2 linked regions of the Homo sapiens genome follow. The protein of the gene in region 2 purifies or fractionates together with the protein of the main gene of each other region. This does not show direct contact. Each region holds a gene or a part of one and is shown on either strand. Other genes may lie near its edges. The genes, in order: MMADHC and KIF12.

Region 1 (3,915 bases), on a different chromosome or scaffold from region 2:
TTGACCATATGTTTACTGGTCATTTTAGGTTTTGTTTTCTGTGAAAGGCCTATTCATGTCCTTTTGTTTTCTGATTTTCTGTTGGGTTATCTTTTCCTATTGATCTATTATAAATTCTTTATATATTCCAGATACTAACATCTTATATAATTTGAATGGCAAAATCTTTCATTTATTATAAATATATGGTTAGTCTTTAGGTGATGTAAATTGGGGAGTAGTCAGAGAGTTAGAAAACTTGGGCAGGATGGAAGGCTCTGAATGCTCAAGTGAACTTAAATTACGTTGTAAGTAATGTGTGCCATGAAAAAAGGATTCCATGTCCAATATCTTTAGGACACATTAGGTTAAGTTTCTAAGAGTCTTTAATATTTTAGTGTGCCTTATAAGCCTCCAAGGCAGGAATATGGCATGTAGCATTTCTCAAACTTACCTACCACAGAGACTATCCCCCTACCCCCACTTTTTCTTTTTAACCTTGAACAAAGCTTCATGGCTTGAAGGTAGTCTGGGAACTACTGCTGAAAGCAATGAAAGATAACAGGTTTTTCAAGAAAGGGACATGGTTAAAATAATTTAGAATGATTAGCATGGTAGTGGTGTACCAAACAGGTTAGAAGAAACAGACTTTGTAGAAAGCAGGTAAGTTCAATAAACACTAACACATAAAAAGTACAAGGTACATTTATGAAATCTAGCAAAGAATGGGAAGAAATAATAATATGGTTTAACAGGACCAAAAGGAGATTTGTTTCAGGGAAGACTCTATGTTTGAAGACAGAAAGAAAAGTTTAAGAAGTAAGCTTTAGAAACCAGTACTTACTCTTTTTTCAATACTGTAGCTTTCTGACATAAATATATTTAGGCAGAGCTGTGATTCATTTTCAACTGAACAAACACAACTTTAGAAAAATCCATTAAGCCTTAAGAAGAAATATTAGAGGAAAATACAACTAAAAATGTTTTGAAACAATTATAAGTAAAGCAGTAACAACTTTCACTTACATATATCTGGAGGTGCAGCAGCCACATGAGACTCATCCGAACCTGATGATCCTGCAGTCGAAAAGGCTTTGGGATTGACAACCCTTTTAACTAAAGAGCAAAATCCTGGGAGATAGGAAACCAGTCTGGCTCTGTTACAAAGCACCTAGAAATGACACAAAATTAAAACTATTTGTTCTGAATATAAATGTTATACTTACATAGACAATCTCTGGCAAATCTTCACACTGCAAGGTTCTTTTAAAACCAACATTTATTCTACTTTTACTGAACACCTACTATATGAAAGCATTATATATATTTGTAATTTTAAAAATAAAAATAAAAATTAAAAAAACAAGTAATAAGTTAGTTTGGGTAAAAGCCTATGTACTTTTCAATAAAGGCTAGAATTCAAGAGTGCCACACATGAGAGAATAGACATCTAAAAGTTGTCTTATTTAGACACAACACTAAAAAGGTAGCACAACTAACAAGATTCTTCTATCCTCAATAAAGAACTCTCAAGACATCTCTTTGGACCAAAATCTGTTACTTTCGAACTTTTCTCTCTTCTTTTACTGCTATAAATTGCGCTAATTCTCTCCCATACTGTCCTTTCATTGTGGTTTCATGGCAATGTCTGCTTTTCTCCATTTCAGCACGTATCTTTGTGGTATATTTTTTTCTGCTTATATGTTCACTTACTAGACAGTGAGGTCATGTATTACAATGGATGAATGTGTAAATATCTTTCATTCATAAATTTTTTAACAATCTTTCATTCATAAATTTTTTAACAAAGTACTTGGGTCAGAACAATTTAATGCAGGGATTGGCGAACGATTTCCCAATACAGCCCACTGTTTTGGTAAATAAAGTTTTACTGTAACATAGACATACTAATTTATGTACTGCCTATGGTCACTTTCCCACGACAATGGCAGAGTTAAGTAGTTACAAGAGATATTCTGTGGCCCACAAAGCCTAAAATATGCACTATCCGGATATTTGTATTAAAAACACACATACACACAGACATTGGCAACTCTCAGTTTAGTGAAAAAGATGTAAAAACAAATATCAAATCATCTGTGAAATGCTATGAAAAGATCTGAATAATTGTTAAGAAATCCTTGGGAGAAAAGGTAATAAATTTCATGGAGGATATACTAAATTTTGAATACAGTAAAAATTTGCTTGGGAAAAGGTGCATTTCAATGAGTGACTTTCAGGAACAAAGGAATAAAGACATATTTCAAAGAGTGACAAATTCAGTGAGGGTAGGTATAAGAATGCAATTAAAAAAAGGTTTGAAATTGAACTTATGGGCAACTATAAAAGACTGTATATTTGACACAGATGGTAAAGGGCTTGTTACATCAAGATAGTAAGTCGGAATTTTAATTTGTAGGCAGGAAAGAGTCAGAGCAAACTGACAAAAACAAAGGCTGTTTTAAGAAATGTACCACTAAGGGCAGTATAAAAAATGGACTGGAGGAGGAGTAGAGAGGTGGTGTGAAAATCAGTTACCAGGATGTTGGAAAAATCCAGCCATCTGACACCTGAGAATTATTCTATTTCCTTTTCACAAAGTACAGTATTCTAATATCCAACCTATTTTTTCCTTCCTCCTTTGTCACTATGAGTGCATCTTAACTGGTCTTTTTGCCTTTCTGACATAATTTCCTACAAATTTACCCTCCCTTCCCTTACTCTACTTTTCAATTACATAAAAATATCTCCCCAACATTTCCCATTTCTCTTCATTCTTTATACTGCCATAAGAATTCTTCTGCTAAAAGATACTGTTTCCTTATCGTTCTAGAAAATTCTAGCAAATTCTTACTTTTTCTTTAAGACCTGGATAAATATAACCTCCTTTGTGATACGTGTCTCCAAAGCATTCTGTCAACCTGAAAATTTAGGCTGCCTCTCTTGGGGTCTGTACCCAACTTGCCCAAAGAAACAAAAATGGTAATTATTTGGCTTTTTACTTACTAAACAAACTCAGACTTTTGGGTGTTTATATAATACAAATTTACCTTTACAACTAAGGATATTTAAGAGAATGCCTCAGGATCTAAAGGAATCTAAAATTTCAAATTCCAAAAATATTTTCAGCAAGGGCTCAAAATAAGCAGCAGCAAAATAAAAGATTATCTGAAGGGGCCAATATTTGAGAGCATGTAATAGTAATAATCAATGTTGGACACTATGGGTCCAAGTTCTATAGTAAGTGCTGTACATATACATTGTTTTATTTAATTTTCATAACAATTCTATATACTGTTATTAGAACTAGTTTCAGCATGGTTAAACTACAATCTGCGATCATTCACATCGTTTCACAAGCAAAAAACAGAAGGAGGAGGAAGATCATCCAAATTATTTCAAAAATCGCCTATTATTTATTATTTTAGCCTGTCTATCAAGGCCATTAGATTATATTTTGACATTCTTTTCTTGGTGATAGAACTTTTAACAAAAGTTATATAATAAAATATGAGTTTTGTTCCTAGCCTAAGAAAATCCAATTACCAAATTTCATTTTAATAGCAAAATAAACCAGTATCTAAATTGCCCACTGAAAGCGACAGTTGATGATAGTACTAATCTGTTTCAAACCTTACCCGTTAACCTGTGAGATTCTCAAATCTTGGCTGGGTGCAGTGGCTCATGCCTGTAATCCCAGCACTTAGGGAGGCGAAGGTGGGTGGATTACCTGAGGTCTAGCCTGGCCAACATGGTGAAACCCCGTTTCTACTAAAAATACAAAAAAAGCCAATTAGCCGGGCATCGTGGCAAGTGCCTATAATCCCAGCTACTTAGGAGGCTGAGGCAGGAGAATTACTTGAACCCAGGAGCCAGGATTTCAGTGAGCAGAGATCCCGCCATTGCACTCCGGCCTGGGAAACAAGAGTGAAACTC
Region 2 (3,915 bases):
AGGCCTTGTTGGCAGTGCGGGGAGGCCCTTGGGCCATGCCTTTGAATTGTGGTTTACTGGTCCTTCCCCACCTCCCCCAGGAATCATTTCTGAAGCTGCAGCTGCAGTCTGGGCCCCAAGTCCACACTCAGTGAACAACTGAGGAATGGGCACCCCTACCCGCAAAACTCCCCGCTGTCAGCACACACCCGTTTGCAAAAGTTCCATCAGGGCCTCCAGACTCCCAAATTCCACCACCCGCAGCTGCTCCACATAGAAGCCCCGAGTCTTGTTCCAGCGAACAGGGAGGGGCCGGGGAGACCCCAGGCTCAGCAAGTCCCGAACCTGGGAGGGGAGGGAGGAGGGTGAGGGAAGGGGATCTTTCTGAGTCCACCCATCCCCAGATCTTACTGACAACAGTCCCCACCGCCTCTTCTGTCCTTTGATCCAGGCTCCCTGGAAAGAAGCGCTCCGTTTCCTCATGGGCTGTCTTTCTATTCCTCTCATTCCCTTACCTGCTCATTGTAGATCTCCAGATAAGAGGCGCGAAGGGTGACAGGGGCACCCAGGTGCTGCACGCGGTCCAACAGCCAGGCGAAGGTCCTCTGCATGATGCCAGCCAGGCTGGGGGGTACAGGCACCCCCTCCCCCTAGGGGCAAAACCAGCTGAGCCATCGTCATCTCCACAGTAATAACTACCCTCTGTAGCGCATGTATGATACCGTGCGCCGGGAAACGTGCCAAGTTCCCAAACAATGGCTCATTTAATTCATAGTCGGTACTGTCACTTCCATTTTACAGATGAGAAAACTGAGAGCTAGGAAGGGGCCAAAGTTGAAGCCCAAATGCTCCAAATTGGGCAAGTCCCTTCTCTTTGGTCCTCAGCGTCCTCGTCTGCAAACAAGCGGGTCAGGCGGCGTCGTCCCAGCCCCTTCCCTCTGGGAGTCTGCGCCGCCTGCGGCTCCCCAGGGCTTCCAGCCCACCCAGCCCCGCCCCGCGGGGGCGCCGCCGGCGCTCGCTCACCTGGGGAGGGGGTCCAGTCAGGGTGTAGGTCTTCCCAGAGCCCGTCTGGCCAAAGGTGAAAACAGTGCAGGAGAAACTGCGGGCGGCAAGGGCGTGGCTGGACTCCGGCGGCTACCCGGGGTGGGGGCTGGGGGTGCTTCGGGGCCCCGCCAGGCCCGGCGCGGAGCGGAGGCGAAGCTTCACTCACCCGCGCAGCGCCAGCTCCCCCAGGCGCCGCACGCCGCACGCCCGGAACACGTCCTCCTGCGTGCGCGCCGCGTCTAGCACCGCACCGAAGCGGAACGCCACTTCTGGACCCCCGCCTGGAGGACTCACCTGGCGCGGGTGGGGCGGAGGAGCGGGGCACTCTGGAGGAGGGCGGGGCACCCTGGAGGGGCGGGGCACCGTGGAGGAGGGCGGGGCACGCGGGAGGAGGGCGGGGCACTCTGGAGGAGGGCGGGGCACCCTGGAGAAGGGTAGGGCGCTCGGTGAGGCACTCGGTGGGCGAGCACCCTGGGTTGGGGGTGGGGTGGGGGACACTCACTAGGGCCGGGGCATTCTGGGGAGGGTAGGACACCCTGGAGGGGCGGGGCATTCTGGGGGGGGCGGGCACCTTGGGTGGGCGGGCACTCAGAAGGGGCGGGGCACTCGCAGGGGTTGGCGCGGCGCACCCTGGCGGAGGGCTGGGCATCCTGGAAGGGAGGGGCACTCTGGGGAGGGCGGGGCACCTGGGAGAGGACCACTCCGGGGGAGCGCGGGGCCTAGGGCAAAGTTGCCTGGGGGAAGGGATCTGGCGTCCCCGGGATTTTTTATTGGGGAGATAGAGAGAGGGGTTCCTCACCTGCAGAGTCCGGGTCCCTGAGCAGTGCAGCACGCTCTGCTGCCCTCGACGCAGCTCGGCCGCGCTCATGGGACGTACCCTGGGGTCCGACAGAAGGGCAGATGGTACATCCTGATGTCTTCCTCGATCCTTGTCTCGCCCAGGTGCCTCCTAGCCAATTTATACCCACCTGAGCACCACCTGGATGGGCGTTTCCGGCCCCTCTGGCCCTTGCTCCAGGCTCCGCGCGAGATCCCTGTGGGCAGCAATGCGACTTATCATACCTGCACCTAGCGGCTGTTCAGGACTCCTCGAACCTGTCTGAAGATCTGCTTACCCGTCGGGTGACCCGCGTTCTTCCATGTCCTGCTCTGCACACGGAGTTAGCTCCGCCCGCGTCTCCTTTATTTACCCCCCACCAATACCCTCCCTTCTCCACAACACTGGGACTGTCTACACACATCTTGCATTCCCACCCCATCCCCCATCCCAGGCAGCCATCCATCCGGAAAGACTCCAGCTGCCCAGGGCTAGCTCGTTAAAGATTTACCCTTCCTCACCCCTGCGGTGGAGAAAGTCTCTCCCAAGCTAGGGGACCCCTAGCTAGGGGGTTCTGGAGTCTGAGGATCCCTTGCTCTTGGCCAGTCCTCACAAGAGGAACCCGTGGGACCACCCAGACCGGCCTCCTTTGTGCCCAGTTGGGGATACCTAAGCAGATAGGAAGGACTCAACCAAGGCCACAGAGCTAGCCTGCACAGGACCAAGCTTTTCCCACCCTCTCCACATACCCCCCACTCCCACCCCCAGCAGCTCAGCTCAGGGCCCAAGGAGTGGCACAGGTCTCAGTCAGCTCTAGGGACGACCTGGCTGGATTGAATCTCTGAGCTGACCTGAGAACAGGTTTCCAAGCATCTGGTAAAACACTGGGGCACCTGCCTCTCTAATGCCAAAGTTAATCCTAGGCCAGCATGATTGTTTAACCCTCTCCTGGTCTGGCTTATGAGAACAGCAGAGATGTCTGTGAATGTGCAGGGATGGGGCAATCACTTATTCTGTACCAGTCTCCATGCTGGGCACCAGGGCAGAGGAACCCCATGCAGCCCCTGACCCTTCCCAGCTCACAGTGTGTCTGGGGAGATGGATAAGTACAACCCAGCAGCGTGTAGGGCCTTTAGGGGGAGTACAGAGGCCTGTAGGAGCCAGTGGGGGTGGGGAGGAGGTGAGGGTATTCCAGGCAAAGCAAACAGGAGTCAGGATGGCCAGGGTGGGGTGGGGAGATGAGTGTGGCATGGAGAGGTAGTTTGAGGCTGGATCTAGCTTATGGTGGGCACATCAAGGAGTCTGGACTCACTCTTCAGGGAACCAGGAAGCCATTGAAGGGTTATAAACAGGGATGTGACACCATCAGGTTGGCATTGTTATTATTATTGTCATTCTGGCTGTCTTTGTATGTTCTCTGAATATTTCTGCAAACTCTCCGGCCCCCAAACACACATTAGGGTGAAAGCCCTAAAAATCACTTTTTCTCAATGTGACACATTCTATACCACCACAAATTACAGCCAACTATCAAAGCCACCCTGCTGGAGAATGGGCTGTCTTGGATGGCAGTGAGCTCCCCAGGCAATGGAGATGTATAAGAAAGAGCCATTTGACCTTTTGGTTATAGGACCCTCTAGCAGGGGCCACAGGGAAAGTTCTGTAGAACTAATAACCACTGCCCCCAGCTCTGCCACTAACTTGCCACAGTCTTGGCTTCTCTTGTTTCCTTCCTGTAAAAAGAGATTAATGACTTCTCTCCTATTTGACATAGTTGTTCTGAGATTTCAATGAGATGTGTCATTGAAAGTGAAAGTTGTAAATAATTACCTAAAAACAAAAATAAAAATTCCTAGATGATCTCTAAGTTCCCTTTCAACTCTGAAGTTCCTTAATCTATTTTTTGAGTCCTTGAGGTGGATAAGACAAAAATTACTATCCCTGTTTTTCAGAGGAAAAAAAACTGAACTAAACAGCGAAAGGCAGGGAAAGTTATCTAAGGAGAAAACAACAAATGGCAGAACTGAGAGTTTAAACCCAGAACTATGAGCTGTACATCCTGATGCTGCTTGCTA

Evidence for each region.
Region 1: the proteins of KIF12 (region 2) and MMADHC purify together in Homo sapiens (affinity purification with mass spectrometry; 2 studies listed by BioGRID and IntAct, with this or other methods). This does not show direct contact.

What each region holds. Positions count from the first base shown.
Region 1 is NC_000002.12:149,581,122-149,585,036, forward strand, and holds part of MMADHC (cobalamin trafficking protein CblD), read right to left. Parts: intron 1,151-3,915; coding exon 1,006-1,150; intron 1-1,005. UniProt on the Homo sapiens protein: Involved in cobalamin metabolism and trafficking. Plays a role in regulating the biosynthesis and the proportion of two coenzymes, methylcob(III)alamin (MeCbl) and 5'-deoxyadenosylcobalamin (AdoCbl). Promotes oxidation of cob(II)alamin bound to MMACHC.
Region 2 is NC_000009.12:114,097,113-114,101,027, forward strand, and holds the start of KIF12 (kinesin-like protein KIF12), read right to left. Parts: upstream 2,181-3,915; 5' UTR 2,165-2,180; coding exon 2,139-2,164; exon of another isoform or gene 2,058-2,138; coding exon 1,992-2,057; exon of another isoform or gene 1,902-1,991; coding exon 1,823-1,901; intron 1,350-1,822; exon of another isoform or gene 1,318-1,349; coding exon 1,190-1,317; intron 1,079-1,189; coding exon 1,003-1,078; intron 630-1,002; coding exon 495-629; intron 325-494; coding exon 189-324; intron 1-188.